Linked DNA regions of Homo sapiens: region 2 is linked to region 1. A link means that fine-mapping ties the variant in region 1 to the expression of a gene that starts in the linked region. Tissue or cell type: whole blood. Region 1 holds a variant in brackets; the other region holds the start of a gene. All regions are shown on one strand. Distances are from middle to middle. Region 1 overlaps ELOVL7 (ELOVL fatty acid elongase 7). Region 2 holds the start of ELOVL7 (ELOVL fatty acid elongase 7).

Evidence for each region. PIP is the estimated chance that this variant, and not a neighbour inherited with it, causes the effect.
Region 2: it holds the start of ELOVL7, and the variant in region 1 is fine-mapped to the expression of ELOVL7 in whole blood (INTERVAL, PIP above 0.99).

The regions. Positions count from the first base shown.
Region 1 is chr5:60,819,213-60,822,116 of GRCh38, forward strand. All of the region lies in intron 1 of ELOVL7 (ELOVL fatty acid elongase 7), which reads right to left. Among named protein-coding and RNA genes, the nearest start is that of ELOVL7, 24 kb to the right of the region's middle. The variant C/T (reference allele first, on the strand shown) is at 1,494.
Region 2 is chr5:60,842,894-60,845,797 of GRCh38, forward strand. ELOVL7 (ELOVL fatty acid elongase 7) reads right to left here and starts at 1,376. Exons shown (of 9, transcript NM_024930.3): 1 at 1,267-1,376. RefSeq lists silencers at 1,048-1,107, 1,118-1,277, 1,298-1,597.

The DNA of each region.
Region 1 (2,904 bases):
TTCTTCCTCATTTCCCAACCTAGCATAGACTCTTTTAAAAAAGCAGCTACTCAAATGTTTATGAATTAATGAATGAATTACTACTAGTTGAATAGATGGGATAGGTGGATAGACAGATGGATGAGATGGACAATGTACTGACGGTTAGAAGAAAGAGTGAAGTTGAAGGGTCGTGATCTATCTCGGTTCCCATTCCCATCTGACACTGGGCAAATTCAGTCTCCTTTTGCTTCCCTGTACAAATGAGAGGTGCTAGAATGCATAAGTGTTTAAGAACCACGATCATAGGCTGGGAACGGTGGCTCATGCCTGTAATCCCAGCACTTAGGGAGGCCGAGGTGGGTGGATCACCTGAGGTCAGGAGTTTGAGACCAGCCTGGCCAACATGGTGAAACCCCGTCCCTACTAAATATACAAAAATTAGCTCGGCGTGGTGGCAGGCGGGCGCCTGTAATCCTGCCTACTCAGGAGGCTGAGGCACGAGAATCATTTGAACCTGGGAGGTGGAGGTTGCAGTGAGCCAAGATCGAGCCACCGCACTCCAGCTTGGGTGACAGTGAGACTCTGTCTCGAGAGAAAAACAAAACAAAACAAAAAAAACCACGATCATAATGCCTACCTGACTTGGTGGATAATTACTATTGTAGTAGACAAAATGATGCTCTCCCCTCCGCGCCTAATATGTCCAAAAGGGTTTCCACAGATGTAATTAAATGTATAGACCTTAAAATAGGGATTTACCCTGGAATATCATGTTGGGCCCGATGTAATCAAATGCATCCTTAAAAGTAGAGAACTGTCTCTGGCTGGAAGAAGGAGGATTTGAAGCATGAATATTCAGTGCAACTTTGCTGGCTCTGGGATGGACTGGCCCACATTCAAGGACTGGGGAGAGGTTCCTAGAAGGTAAGGGTGGCCTCTGACAGACAGCCTGGAAACAGGAACCTCTGTCCTACAGCCACAAAAAAAGTAAATCCTGCCAACAACCTGAATGAGCTTAGAAATGGATTCCAAGCTCCCATTGGAGCTCCAAATGGAGCCTCCTAATAAGAGCCCAATTGACCAACACCTTAATTGGGCCTTGTGAAACACAGAGCAGAAAAACCAGCTGTGCCAACCTGGAATTCTGACCTACAGAACTGTGAGATAATACATTTGTGTTATTTCAATGAACTTAAAAAGTCTGTGGTGGTTTGTTATGGCAGCAATAGAAAACTAATACACTATCTTTCGGTTTAGTTTAAGAACCATTTGTCAAGCCTGTTCCACATGCCAGGCCCTGTGACCAGTGTCTGGGATAGAAAAATGGGTACACATTCTCAAGGAGCTCATAAGTACTTCAGCCCAATGGACAATTCTATGCAAGAAGTTAGCACAAAGCACTACAGGAACACAGAAAGGCACCTAACTGGTACGACATCTTTAGACTCTTGACTTCTCACTTCTCCAACACCCTCCCCTTCTATTATTCGTTCTCCCAATGAGTTGGACCA[C/T]GAACCTGATCACAAATCAGAAACTGTGAGCCATCCTTAAACTCCACTGACCCCTTAAGACCTGTGGTGTATGCCATCTTTATGATATTTCTCCTAAAAGTCCCTTCCCCTTTCCTTCAACTCCACTTCCTCCCCTCAACCCCTGACTGCTACTTCCTGAGCTTTATCATCTCTTGGCCACACACAGAAGGAAGTGAACTAATAAGTTTGTCTACTGATAAGTCTGTCTTGTGTTGATGTTCTCTTGTCTGCCTAGTGAATTATCTGTTTTTAGTATGCTGTAGCTTTAAGCCCTATACAAAGTTCTCGGTAAATTTGAGTAATAATTATAATTACTGCCTAGTTCACTTCCGTCTTTGTGTGGCCAAGATTACTGAAATCACCTTTCAACTAACTTTCCTAAATGAACAGCCATCCACTGTACACAAGGCCACCAGAGTCATCTTCCCAAGGATTAAAGCAGTCACACCATGCTCTACTTCAAAATCCTTCAAAGTCTGCCTACAGTTACTAAAAAGTCTAACTCTGTGGTGACGCTTAGCACCCTTCTAATCTCTAGCAGAGCAAAACTGTCCCTGCTGGACTTCTAACCCCAATTCCTAGGCAGGGTCTGGCACATGGTTGACTTCCAAACAGTATTCGCTGAACGAATGATCTCAACCCCACGTGACTCTCTAGCTTCATCTCTTGCCTAACAGCAACCTTTTCCACTATGTCCCCTCTATCCTCCAACTCAGCAAGCCCAAGTGCTCCTCCTTCCCCCTCTATCTATGCTCCAGTTTCTCTTCATGACTAAAAATCCTTGTTCGGCTGGCTGGGAAGCCTAGCTCACTTTTCATAATTCTGCCTTCCTCTAACATGCTTTCTGTTCCCCTTACAGCTAAACCACCCAGGCAAACTGTCCAGTCTCTTCTGAGCCCCTGACATAAGCTGTCCCCTCTTCTACCATGGCATCTATAGCAAACACTCTAGGACAGTGGCCTGTGACTGGTGCTGACGCACAAATGGTTTCTTACTAGATTGGTACCAGCTAACTCCAGAAATCAAGTGTAAGCATTTAGAAATGTTTATAGCAATTTGACATTGCTGTGACATCCAAGTATGTGATGCTTGTTGAACAAGGCATAGACCAGTTCAAGTGTTGCTGAATTTGTGAGGTGAGTCACATGTGGTGCAACCTGCATATTCACTATGTGCAATAGGACCATTTACTGATCCACGATAGGGAAAAAAAGAAAAAAACAAATTAAAAACCCAGTTGGTCTATTACCACAGATAGTTTGAGAAGCACTTCTCTAATGCCTTCAGGTGTGTTCTTACCTTCCTCCTTTTGGGAATGTTGTTTGCTGCCTGGGACAATGCAACAATGCAAATGTCTAATAAATATCAGTGAATAAATAAATGAAGGTGT
Region 2 (2,904 bases), 24 kb after region 1:
ATGTCTGCCACGGGGTGAGGGGTGGATTTTATTTAGTTCTCGGTGACCTTGGGGAGACCAATTTCTGATCAGTAGTACGAAGAGAAACTACAAAGAAAGGGAATGAATAAGCGGGTGCGTGGTAAGAACGCAGAGGCAGCCACCAGGTATCGATGACCCTTTCGGAGCACGTAAGCAATAAAAGTGAGGAATGAAATAAAGGGTAATCCGAGAGCACAGGGTTAAGTGAACATGCTTTCCGAGGGGAGATCGTAGCAAGAGGGAAAAGACCACTGGCGAGGAACTCGGGTCGCTAAAACTGTTCTTCAGTCGACGCGGGACTAACTACACTGGGAGCAGGACAGGTGTAAAGACCCGCTCCTTCCCGTCCCGAGTTCCCCAGGGAGCTCCAAAGAGCGCTCTGTCCGCACCGGGTGAAGTTTGAAACAGCTCTGACTTGAAGGGGGAAAGCCCATTTCCCAACGAACCTGGGAAAGCCCATTTCCCAACGAACCTGGGAAAGCCCATTTCCCAAAGAACCAACGATACCTGGGACGACAAAACAACAGGCTTTCCTGTTTCCATCTCCGGCACGACCTGTTCCACGGCTCTGTATTCATCAGCCTCCTCCCGGCCAGCAGCAGCCACCAAGACAGGATGCGGCTCGGGGAGCCGAAGGGACAGCGCCCCAAGTTCATCTGGCCGCGGGAGCAAAAAAAGCGCCCAAAGGGGAAGGAAGGAAACAGAAAGAAAGGGGCTCCGGAATTTGGGGGGGTGGCTAGCGAGGCCAGACCCCGGAGCTGGGAAAATGACCTCCGCGTCCAAGGTCGAGCAGGTCCTTCTCCCTCCCAGTCCCGCCGGCGAGCACCTCTGCCCCTCCCGCTCCGCTCCGCAGGGCCAGCGCCGCGCGGGACCCCAGTCCAGGCTCCGCTCCGCAGCGCGCCCACCGGGCCCGACCTTCCCTTCGGGATGCTGCCGGGTGGGGGCTCCCGAGAAGGCGCAGGTGAGCGCCGCGGCCCCGCGCTCCGGCGAAAAGGGCCTCGGTCCTCCCCACGCGCAGGCAGCGGGGACAGAACTTCCCAAGCGCCTCCCGAGCCCAGGGAGGGCCTGGCCCCGCTCCCGGGGCCCCCGCACCCGGGTCCCACTTCTCGCGCGCCGCGCCCAAGTTCCTCCATCCGGCCACTCCCGACGCCGTTCCCCTCGGCTCTGCCTCCCTCCCCAGTCTCTTCTCCTCCGCGCGCCGGGAAAGTTTGGCCCCTGCCCGCCGGCCTGGAACCCCGCACTCACCGCACAGGGAGCGGAGCCGAAGCGCCGGGCGCGCGCGGGAGAGAGGGCGGCGACTGGCAGCGCGAGCGCGGAGCTCCTCACAGCGGCCCCCGCTGTCCCGGCCGCCGACTGGGTTGGAAAGGGGAGGAGGCCGCCGGGTGTCACCTGCCCGCTATCCCACCCAGCCGCGTGACGCGCGCAGCGCCGCCCCCTGCCCGCCGCCGCCAGGTGCCCGCCGAGGGCCGGAGGGAGGAGCCGGGGCGGCGCGAGGGGGAGCGGCCGGGAGGGCGGAGGCCGCCCCGGCCTCGCCTCCGCCGCGCGCCCTGACTCTCGGGACTGGGGCCCACCGGCCGCTCTGGGTTAGCGGGGCTGGTCGTGGCACCGATGACCTTTCTTTCCGAGAGCAGATGCCATCACTTGGGGGACATCTCCAGGCTGACATAGCAGAGTGGAAATTGTCGTCATGCGTGACTCATTTGGGAATGAGCAGTAGAAAAATCCGAAATGAGGAAAACCTAGCTGAGGCTGGAGGCGGAGAAAAAGGGGACTCCTTGCTTCTGAAAGGGTATTGGGAGGGTTAATTCGCATCTGAAATGGAAGCCAGACCAAGAGGAGAAGGCCCTGGGAGGGGAAGGCCGACTTGGTTCAGCTCCATCCCCTGCTTATAAGGAATAAGAAACTAGAGAATTGAGGCAGCCTGGGGGGCATGGGGAGAGGACTTTTAGAGCAATGAAGATTAGATTGTATATCATCTAACTTTGTTTCTGGTAACAGCAACTGCTGCAGGAAAAAAAGTCTAGAAAATTCATTTCTCGTTACCTACTGTTGGATTGGAAAGTGGGGGTGGGGATGAGCGTTCGGAGTGTGCACCTGCGCTTGGTTTATTTATTTTTTAAACGTACCTGGCCTTGTGTCTGGTAATGATCCTCCTAATCGCTGGTATGATTTGGATCATCAATAGCTGAAAGGCAAAATAGGGGCCTAGAGAAGTTCCCTGCTTCTGAGGCAAAACCAAAGGCTGGTGTTGAACTGTCCAGAAACCTAAAAAACAATAATCATTTTTAGTTGCAGTCCTGACCCAACCACCTCACAAATGTGGGCTTTGAGTTTGTATTGCGAGTTCTCAGCATGGAATCAAGAAACACAAAAAGGGGCTGGGAGCGTCAGGACCACCAGAGAGGATGGGTAGGGAGAAAAAAAAAATTGGGGTGTCGGAAGCATATTTTCCTCACATGTAGGGATTGCCTTCGGCAGCTTAATCCCACTACATTAAACAAGAGGTTTTAATGTTTTTATGTAAAACTTCGAAAGTGTCCATTGAAAGAAAAGCAAAAAAAAAAAAAAAAAAAAAAAAAAAAGCTTAAATTGCAAAGAATCTCGAAGTCAAAAAAACTAAAGATTTCTCCTTTCTTTTAGATAACTTTGCTTTCATATTAAAAACAGATCATTTAGTAGACTTAGGAAGTCTTTTGGGAACGGGAGACAATTGCCTAATGATACTAGCCTTTGAGTCTATCACAATTTACCATTTATATATACTTATGAAATTTCAAATATGCAGAAGCTCAAATGGATTCATTTATTTAACAAATACTGGAGTGCTGCTATGTTCCAGGCCCTGAAGTTTCAATAGATAACAAATTCCCCGTTCTCAGGGAC